2 separate regions of the Homo sapiens genome follow, and region 1 is linked to region 2. Evidence: fine-mapped expression QTL. A gene starts in region 2. The other region holds a variant in brackets. All regions are shown on one strand. Distances are from middle to middle.

Region 1 (5,381 bases), 150 kb before region 2:
TGGCCAGGAGTTCGAGACCAACATGGCAAAGCCCTGTCTCTACGAAAAATACAAAAATTACCCAGGCATGGTGGTGCACACCTGTAATCCCAGCTACTCGGGAGTCTGAGGCACAAGAATCACTTGAACCTGGGAGGCAGAGGTTGCAGTGAGCCAAGGTTGCACCACTATCTTCCAGCCTGGGTGACAGAGCAAGACTGTCTCAAAAAAAAAAAAAAAGATATTTATAATGGGTAAATGAATAATAATTTGAAGTCACAGATCTCAACGTTTACGAAAATAAAACTAAGACTTCAAAATAATAAATATTAACCAGAACTGGAAAGCAAAATGAAGTGGAGTAAGTGACTTTCAGAAAAGGAGGAAATACAACATGTTCTTTGATATAAATACAAGCAGGTAATAAAAGAAAGTCGGCATTGGAAAAACATACATCCTCCTCCTTTACCCTGTGAGCAGACCTTACTTATATGCGTGAGAAAGAAAGAAACTGCAGCATCCAAAAGTAGAGGTCATAAGTCACATTCCTTAAGAGCAACCAACTGAGAAAGATAAGTTTGGAAAACTATGAAGCATATTTTTTATTTTTACTGTTTAACATAATTTTGACAGGAGAGCAGACAAAAACACACTCCTGGGAGGAATGGCGGCAAAAGAGAATGACAATTATTATTTTTCTATATGCTGCAATGTGACAATGTATTTTGCAAAAACAACCACACCAGATGTCTAGCCTCTGGACTCACTTTTTACTAGGATGGCCAGCCATCTCATCAAGTGCAATGTACACATCGAGGATTTACACCATGCTCCGTTTAATGCCTAAAGGTTTGGTGGGGTTCCACATGGAATTAACTTGATTCTGAAATTGGGACTATTCACGGCAGTCCCAATTTTAAGCTGAGTCCATCTGCCAAAATGTTGCTTCAGATGTGAAATGTACTTGCTGGTGGCTAATTTTCAAAAGCATCTCGTAGTCACTTACTGGTATGTAAAATGTACAGCTCAATTGCTATTCATTAAGAGAGAAAAAATCAACATTGCCTAAATGGATTAAAAACAGAAGTCACAGACAAGGATGTAAAAGCACTTTGATTTTTCAATAGAGAGATTTTTATACATTTATTGGCATTCTCCAGCATCAGTCATCTCCCAGGCTGAATGCTCAAGATTTTCATTTTCACCATTAAATGGTCCCTGTTTAAATGGATCTCCTTACTTGGCAAAACATATTTACACATCCAGTTGTGCCAGCTCTAAGGCTTCTAGTTCTAAACGTCTATAGGGAAAAAAGAGAAGTGTTAGGAGGTGACTTCACCTTGCCTTTCCCTGAGATCTGATAAAAACTGCTCAACCACACACAAGAACAGCAGGATGTGGTCAGAGGCGTCGTTCCTCCTCTGTGAGACACAGTTTCCTCAGGAAGGAAATCTTAAGAAAGGTATCAGGAAACTATGGACTATGCCAGTCAGCTGTTAAGGGCTCAGAAACTCTTAAGGGAGCAAAATGTTCAACCACGCTCTTTTTCTGAATAGAGAAATCAAATCCCGAGATCAGCCAGGGAGAAAAAGAAAAAGATCAAAAGGGGTATTCTATCTCTAGCTCCAAAACAAATAGCACTCGTTTTCAGTTTTTAAAATGTGCGTGTCTTTAGTCATTTCCCAGGATGGCTTTAAACATGTTGACAGTTTTGCCTCGAACAATGGTGCTGGACTCACCATGGGCATGTTTTCCAAGCCATTTTCTATGAATGTCAAATTGCCCAGGATGCTTCTTTATGGACACCTCACTTCCAGAAGACACCAATCCTTAAAGCTTGAGCTGAATAGGAGAACAGATGCTTAATTTTAAAGTATCACTTCAATTTCTAGCTGAGTAGAAGGGACAACTCCCAGGGCTAATATAAAGTGTCTTTGAAGATCCAACTTCATAAATGACTAGTTAATCAAGTGTAAAAGTTTAAGGAGGGAAGAAAGTTCACTCACATAGCTTCTTAATACCCATCTGGTTCCAAATAGCCTATATTTATATTAAAGGGCGGAAGATAATAACTTTTTTTTGTTTATGTCATTCTTAAGATACAGCAAGACCTATAATCTCCTAGAATTCCTTAAACTAAACTCTTCAAGAACATTACCAATCCATTGCGTGCTGAGGACAAAACAGGATACAAATAAACTAAAAGAACAGGGTCCTTGACGTTAGCACAGTTTTAAGAGTTTTTAATTCATTGCTTTCATTTAAAAATTTGGAGGTTTCCCACGAATATCCAGATTTATGTTTGTTTGTTTGTTTTAATGAGAAGATCCAGCCACAGTAGGTTCTCATTCCCATCTGGCAACAACTGACTGGTACTGAGTGGCTGCTGCTTAATCCTGGATAATCTCTAAAATCCTTCCAGAAACAAAATCCTGGGTGTCTAAATATGATGCAGCAAGTTTGTTGTTAAACTTTGAATTCAAATGGCATGAACAAAATAGACTTCCCAAGCATGAAACTTAGAATACGTCTATGAAGTAAAGTGAATTTCTGAATTGTGATAATTTAAAATAAAAAGGCTGGAGTCAGTAGTGCTACACGAGATTGGGCAAAGACACCAAAGAAACACACACAGACATTGAAATGTACTTCACTGGACCCCTTGATTTGATTAGATGTTGGAATATGAGATCAAAATTGTGTCCTGAAGGACAAAGAAGAGGATGGCATAACTGGGGGATAAAAGGAAGGAGTAAGCAATCCTTATGAGCATGGTAGAGAGAAAACGGGGAGGTTACATCCTGGGAAGACCAAGAAATGAGAAGAAATGCCTTCAGGAATTTTTGTTTAATTCCTGTATTAAAGCAAACTCTACACATAAAAGTCCTATAGATAAATTACTACTGTAATTTTGTGTAGACTGACAAAGAAAAAGACTCAAATTACCAAAATCAGGAAAAAAAGAAAGATCACTATCAATCTTACAGAAATAAAAAGCATTACAAAGGAATACTATGAAAAACCATATACCAATAAATTAGATAACTTAGATGAAATGGAAAAACTCCTAGAAAATGCAAACACAAAACAAGACTCAAGAAGAAATAGAAAATCTCAGTAAATCT[G/A]TAACAGATAAAAAGCGTAAGTTACTAATTTTAAATTTACCATGAAGAAAATCTCAGGACCAGACAGCTTCTCTGAGTGAATTCTACCACTCATTGAAACAATACCAATTCTTTGCAGTTTTCTAAAAAAAAAAATAGAACAAGAGGGAACACTTCCCAACTCATTCTATGAGGCCAGTATTATTGTGATACCAGAACCAGGCAAAAGCATCACAAAAAAGAAAACTATAAGCCAAGGTTCCTTGTAAATATAAGTTAGAAAATCTTCTATAAAATACTAGCAAACTTACCCAGCAACATATAAAAAGGATTATACACCATGACCAAGTGGGATTTATCCAAGTAATGCAAGTTAACAAAGTTTGTTTACAAACAAAAATCAGTGTAATAAACCATATAAACAGAATAAATGACAAAGACCTCGTGATCATTTCAATAGACACAGTAAAAGTATTGTATCTAACAAAGTCCAACAACCCTTCTGGATAAAACCACTTACCAAACTGGGAATGGAATAGAAGATGCCTTAGTCTATTTGTGCTGCTATAATAAAATACCATAGACTGGGTAATTTATAAACAATAAAAATTTATTTCTCACAGGTCTGGAGGCTGGGAAGGCCTCATTCTGTGTCTGTGAAGCCCTCCTTGCTGCATCCTGACATGGCAGAAGAGGTGAACGCTGTATCCTCAAATGGTAGAAGGTAGAAGGGCAAAAAGGTCTGCTGAGCTAGATCCCCCCAATCCTTCTATAAGGCACTAATCCACTGATGAGGGCAAGGCCCTCATGACCTAACCACTTTCCAAAAGGCTTCATCTCTTAATACCATTACAATGGAAATTAAGTTTCAACATGAATTTGGGAGGGGACGCATTCAACCCATGGCAGAAGGTATCTCCCTCCACTTGAAAAACAGCATTTATGAAAACCTACAGTTAATATTACACTTAATGATGAAAGACTGAATGCTTTCCCCATAAGAGCAAGAACGGATGAGGATGTCCATCCAAGAATAGGATGTCCACTCTCACCACTTCTATTCAACATCATAATGGAGGTTCTAGCCAGGGCAATTAGGCAAGAAAAATAAATAAGACATTCATATTGGAAAAGAAGAAGTAAACTATCTCTCTTCACAGATAATACGAACTTGTGCATATAAAATCCTAAGGAATTCACAAAAAGCTATTGGAAATAACAAATGAGTTCAACAAGTTTGCAAGACTTGAGATGAATATACAAAAATTGGTTGTATTTATTTCTATGTACTAGCAGTAAGCATTCTGAAAGTAAAATTAAGGAAAAATTCCATTTAAAATAGAACCAAAAAGAATAAAGTACTTAAGAATAAACTTAACAAAAGAAATGCAACACTTGTACACTGAAAACTACAAAACATTGTTAAAATAAAGAAGACCTAAATAAATGGAAAGACATCCTGTATTTGTGGGTCTCTAGAAGATTTGTTATTGTTAAGATGGCAAAAGTCCTCAAATTTATCTACAAATTCAATGCAATCCGTGTCAAATCTCAACTATATTTTTGACAAAAATTGACAAGATAATACTAAAATTCATATAAAAATGCAAGGGACCTAGAATAGCCAAAACAAACTTCACAAAGAAAAGCAATTTTGATGAACTCACACTTCCTGATTTCAAAATTTTCCACAAGGCTACAGTAATCAAGACAATACAAGACTGGAATAGGATAAGAATATAGATCAATGGAATAGAATTGAGAGTCCAGAAATAAACTCATACATCTATGGCCAATTGATTTTTCAACAAAGGTGTCAAGATGATTCTATGGGGAAAGAATAGTCTGTTCAACAAATGGTCCTGGGACAAGTGGATATCCACATGAAAAGCAAAAGAAGTTGTACTCCTTCCTTAAACCACACACAAAAATTAACTCAAAGTGAATTATAGGCCTAGATGTAAGAGCTAAAACTATAAAATTCAGAAGAATACTTAGATATAAATCTCTGTCCTTGGTTGACTATGTTTTCTTAGATACAATGCCAAAAGCATAAGTAACAGAAAAAGATATAGATAAATTGGACTACACCAAATTTTAAAATTTTTATGCTGAAACCAATATCTTCAAGATAGTGAAAAGACAACCACAGAATGATAGAAAATACTTGCAAATCATGTATCTGATAAAAGGACTGGTATTGAAGATATATAAAGAGCTCTTTCAACTCAATAATAAAAACGACTCAGCTTTAAAATGGGTAAAGGATTTGAATAGAAATTTCTCCAAAAGAAGAGA
Region 2 (5,381 bases):
AGTTTACAAGTTTAATAGTTTGTTGTAATTAGATGCTTATTGATTACTGAATTCTAACAAAGCAAAAAAAATCTGATTATTTTCTAAATTTAGAGAGATCTCAGAGTTTCCATTCAGCTCTTAAAATGTAAGCACAAATGTGGATTTGTATCAGTAGGAATGTTATATATATATTTACATATATATATTTATTTACATATATATTTACATATATATTTACATATATATATATATATTCCTATATGTATGATATACTTTAAAGAGCCAAGCTCAGAGAATTCAAAGACTCATCAGAGCTTAGAGACAAAGATAAATTAAATTCAAGGAACAAAATGAACATTATAATCAAAGAAAAGCAAATGCAAACGATGCCATTTTTGCCTATGTGGAAAAGTTTTACTTTTACTAATAATACTCTAGTTTCTGGGCACTCTCGGACTGCTGGTGGAACTTTCCAAGGAGTAAGTTGAGAAACTGATATGTTGAGCCTTAGAAATGTATTGTAGATATTCTTCTTGTAAGAATTAACCCTAAGGAAGTATTTAGAGGCAGACTATGTCTTAAATACAAAGCTGTTTCTCATAAAATCAGTTTAAAAACAGTATTTAGATTCAACATTTGTTACATGCATCCTATGAAATTCTGAAGTCATTAAGCCTATTGAAGAATACAAAAAAAAAAAAACATTTGGGGCGGGGCACGGTGGCTCACGCCTGTAATCCCCCAGCACTTTGGGAGGCCGAGGCGGGCAGATCACGAGGTCAGGCGATCGAGACCATCCTAGCTAACACGGTGAAACCCCGTCTCTACTAAAAATACAAAAAATTAGCCGGGCCTGGTGGCAGGGGCCTGTAGTCCCAACTACTGGGAAGGCTGAGGCAGGAGAATAGCGTGAACCCCGGAGGCAGAGCTTGCAGTGAGTCGAGATGGCGCCACTGCACTCCAGCCTGGGCGACAGAGTGAGACTCCGTCTCAAAAAAAAAAAAAAAAAAGGATGTTTTCTAAACACAAAATAAAAGACTATATGCAACATGATTTTAACTTGTTAGGGAGGGAAAAAGAAATAACAATGGTAACACTGTTTATAACTGGATGGTGAAATGACATATTTTTTTCTATTTTTCTTTATTTTCCAAATTTTCTACAATGAAACTATATTACTTTTAAAACCAAGTAACATTATCAAAGTCTTCTAAATCACATTTATGTAAAAAATATCGGGATTCAAACTAGACAATATAAATTATACATGTAGTCTTCATAAAGCTATACCAATAATTCGACTACGAAAAATAAGTAAGAGTAGCACTTAAGAAATGGATTCAAAGGTGGAAGTTGGAAAGAAAATATAGAAAAAGTTGAAGCTAGAATCTAGTTACCAAAATCTGAATTCTAAATAGAGACTAGAGACCATTTTTTCAAGAAGATTATCCCCAGGCCAGGCGCGGTGGCTCACATCTGTAATCCCAACACTTTGGGGGGAGCAGGGTGCGGATCACTTGAGCCCAGGAGTTCAAGACCAGCCTGGGGAACATAGTGAGACCTCATCTCTATAAAAGAAAGGAAAGAAAATTATCGCCAAAGTACCCAATCCCACATTTCTTTCATGACCGTCTGCCAAGGTCTCCTTCCCTATCCTACAAACCACCCAGCAGCAATTCAAAGAGAGTTTTGAAAAAGTAAGATAAACTACTACAATTAAGAAAAAAGCTATTCACCAGCTACAACCTCCTCCCAACCCTTCTCTCACTTGGGCATAAAGAGCCAAAAGCTTCTTAGAAGCAGCACTGCTGTCTCCCATCACCACTAAAATGTCTGAATTCCTGACGCTGCAAACAAAACTGCTTATTTTCTCTCCTTGTTATTAGCAGAGTTTTACCTGTCCTGAGGGAACCCTGGCACGCTGAACTAAAAGTCCTGATCCTCAGGGACCATGCCTTATTCCTCTTTGCAGATGCGTCCTAGTTACCAGCTAGCCCACTCAATACTAGTCTGATGAATAAATGAAGAATGAAGGCAGGCATGCATATTAAAGAAAAATATATTGTGTTTACCCATACAGTACTTTAAGAGTACCTGTTTGATGTTTGACAACCCTTTGTTTGCCTGTTATCAAAACAAGGCAGTGCCCCACATTTTAAAAAATAACAAAAATAAAAGCCCGCCTGGCCCCCCGATGCAGCTTAAAGTAAACAGTATCTTTGGATCATCTCTATCCCCAGCTACTGTTAAATGACCCGCAATTATGATGTTTTCTGACTCCGGGTCTCGGGCCTCCGGCTGGTATTCCTGCCCCTTTGCCAAGACCCCTAATCGACAGACGTTGCGAGACCTTTGTCTCGCTCCTCCCAGCAGCGGAACCCCCACCAACCCAGTTTCCTCCCGAAAACTCCCACCTGCCGGGGTGGGAGCGTCGGGCCAGGGGAGTTCGGGGCCCGGGGCCGCCTCTCAGCTCTGGAAAGTAAAAGTGGGCGTTTTCTCAGCTTTCAGTTAGTTTTTCCACCCGACCTTGACGCGGCCGGAGCTCCTGCCCCACTGGCCGCCCCCAGCCCCGCGGCCAGCCTGGCCCCGCGACCCGGCTCACCCTCGGGCAACTCCACGGTGCGCGCGCGGCGCAGCGAGCGCGTCAGGCGGTTGAGTTGCTCCATCGCTCTCTCCATCCTCGGCGCGCCCTCCGCGATCCTCCGCGATCAGCCGCCCCACCGGCGGCCTCCGCGCCCAGAGCCCTACATCTCGCCTGGGCCCGTCCAGCAGGCGGAGACGCGGGCTTGCCCCGGCTAGAGCACTGAGCTGCGAGGGCTGCCTGGGGCCACGTCCTGCGTCCGGGGGCCGGGCTGCTGCCGGACCGACCACCTACAGTACACCCGCCGCCGCCTCTGCTCGCGCCTTTCCTGCAGCCCCCGCCGCCGCGTCCCTCCCGGGCTCGCGTGGCCTTCTGGGAACTGTAGTTTCCAGCTGGCAGAACGGAGCGCCCTGGGCGGAGTCACGTTGGGGGCGCCCAGGCCACGCCAACGCGGGCGCAGGGCTGAGTATGCGGGAAGCCACGCAGCGACTGGGCGTACTCCTAAGCTTCTGGAAAGGCATTCTCACGCCCTGCTCCTCCTACCCTCCTCCAAAGTTGTACAGGAGCAGTTTCCTCCAATTCTATAACTTTACTATAAAACAGATTAGAAATTGGCACAATTGTTCTTAAATCCGTCACCACCTTTCTAGTACTGTATTAGTGCCTTTGTTTCAGGTACCCTACATGAACTGTTTTAAGTATGGTATTTTCATATGTCAAACTTAAAGAGTAATAAAATCAAACAAATCCAAAAGCATATTGTGCTTTTGTCTTCATTGTAAATAACTTGACAATAGCTTAATTAGTTGTTTTTCCTGCCGGGCGGCTTTATGAGGGCAGGGACATTTAATCTTGAACTGTGTTGTATCCCTGTACTTAACAAGGCACCTAGCACAAAGTTAAAGCTCTGGGGAAGATATGAATGATGACAACCTGAAAAAATTTTTTCATTTATTTGGTACAATGCTAAAGTGTCTATGTGATGACACAGCCTAGTGGGAAATCCAAAGGATTTGACTTTGTAAGTTACAAAAAATTTGGATACCTACATTGTGGAAGAAATGAACTCAGTGGCGAAAAATCATATTCATAAGCTCTGCACAGAAGTTGAACACTTGAAACAACAGAAGTTGGAACTTCAAAAAATTAACCCAATCAAAGGGGTAAATGTGAGCCTGGCTAACACCAATATATCTTGGATATATTACCAGTGCCAAGATGATGCTGGAGTGAGGGAGAAACAAAAGGCTTGTCTTTTTCAGCTTCTCTTCCTCAAAGAGACAAAGCTGTTCCTGAAATGAATGGGCACATGTACGTTGATGATGTATGTTGGCTGGCCAAGTGAAAGAGAGTCTCACCTGCCCATTCAGGATATGAAGGGGCAGATGGTGGTTGGCATGTGTTTTCCCTGCCAGTGCCGTCCTAAATCAGTTCCAGCTAGTGACCATTTGTGCCAGTGGTGCCACAGGCACGGGGAAGACCTCTGTAATCTTCACCTAATCAGATGATACCTAAACCAGTCTGGCAACAAGGTGGTAGAGGTCAAAGTTTCAAAAGAATACCAGAGGCTGGGCGCAGTGGCTCATGCCTGTAATCCCAGCACTTTGTGAGGCCAAGGCAGGCGGATCACTTGAGGTCAGGAGTTTGAGACCAGCCTGGCCAACATGGTAAAACCCTGTCTCTACTAAAAATATGTATATACAAAAATTAGCCGGGCGTGGTGGTGTGCCTCTGAAATCCCAGCTACTCGGGAGGCTTAGGCAGGAGAATCGCTTGAACCCGAGAGACAGAGGCTGCAGTGAGCTGAGATCCTGCCATTGCACTCCAGCCTGGGTGACAGAGCGAGACCCTGTCTCAAAAAAAAAGGAAAGGAAGAAAGAAATACCAGACGTTATGGACCAGTCTAGCCCAGGCTCAACCATTTGCAACCTGGCTTCAACTAAAAATGTTCCAGTCTTGCTTGGCCTCTTATGCTATTCAAAAAGTCAGGATTCCCACTGCTGTACAGAAGTTGGCCCCTCAGCTTCTCTCAGCTGCTGTTATCACCATTGCTCTCTAGGCTGTTGCTCCATATAAATTACCTCCAACGTCCTGTGAGGACCAAGCCTGGAGTTTGTGGGCAGGGGTAGGAGCCCCCAGCAGCCTCCATGGTGGGCATTGCATCTCATGCTGGTCACTGTTCACCACAGGAGCAGAAGATAATGGAACAGGTAATGCTGATGTGAATTGTCAGTTCCAAATTCTGCAATATGATGCCGTCTCCCAATAGCTCTGCTTCAAAATGTATAAAGCTGCAGTACTACTATCAGCTTATCACCTCCTGTCCAACAGAACTTTCTGCAATGATAGAAATATTCTATAATCTGCAATGTCCAAAATAGCATCCACTAACCAAATGGGGTTACTGGGTGCTTGAAATGTGGCTGGTGCAACTGAATTTTAAATTTGTATTAAAGTATAAGTAATGAAACTAATTAAGTTAAATAGCTGTATGTGCCTTGTGGTTACCGTATTAGACAGGGCAACTTATCACACCAAGAAGAAAGCTGCCCAGGAGAACACCAAAACAGCTAAACAGCTTCTTATAGATTATTATTAGCTAAAGAGTAGATTTTCTCACCTGTCACCAACACCAAAAACATCAAGTGGAAGTTTCAAAAGGGCACTTTGTATCATAAGTTCCATTAACAAAAGCGTAGAGTTTTTCACTAATGATAACCCAGGTTCTTCTGTGGCCCAGACAGTTTCAACTTTCTTTTTTGTATATCTGGTATTTTTTTCTTCCTGGAAATTGGTTTTATTGAAGATTCCCAAGCAT

Evidence for each region. PIP is the estimated chance that this variant, and not a neighbour inherited with it, causes the effect. A credible set is the group of variants that fine-mapping cannot tell apart.
Region 1: its variant is the best candidate, but not a certain one, in a credible set for the expression of HACE1 in skeletal muscle (GTEx, PIP 0.63).

What each region holds. Positions count from the first base shown.
Region 1 is chr6:104,703,901-104,709,281 of GRCh38, forward strand. No RefSeq gene overlaps it. Among named protein-coding and RNA genes, the nearest start is that of HACE1, 150 kb to the right of the region's middle. The variant G/A (reference allele first, on the strand shown) is at 3,105.
Region 2 is chr6:104,856,983-104,862,363 of GRCh38, forward strand. HACE1 (HECT domain and ankyrin repeat containing E3 ubiquitin protein ligase 1) reads right to left here and starts at 2,937. Exons shown (of 24, transcript NM_020771.4): 1 at 2,585-2,937. The coding sequence starts at 2,660. It also overlaps the pseudogene LOC100422315. RefSeq lists a silencer at 2,366-2,995 and enhancers at 2,618-3,117, 2,732-3,026.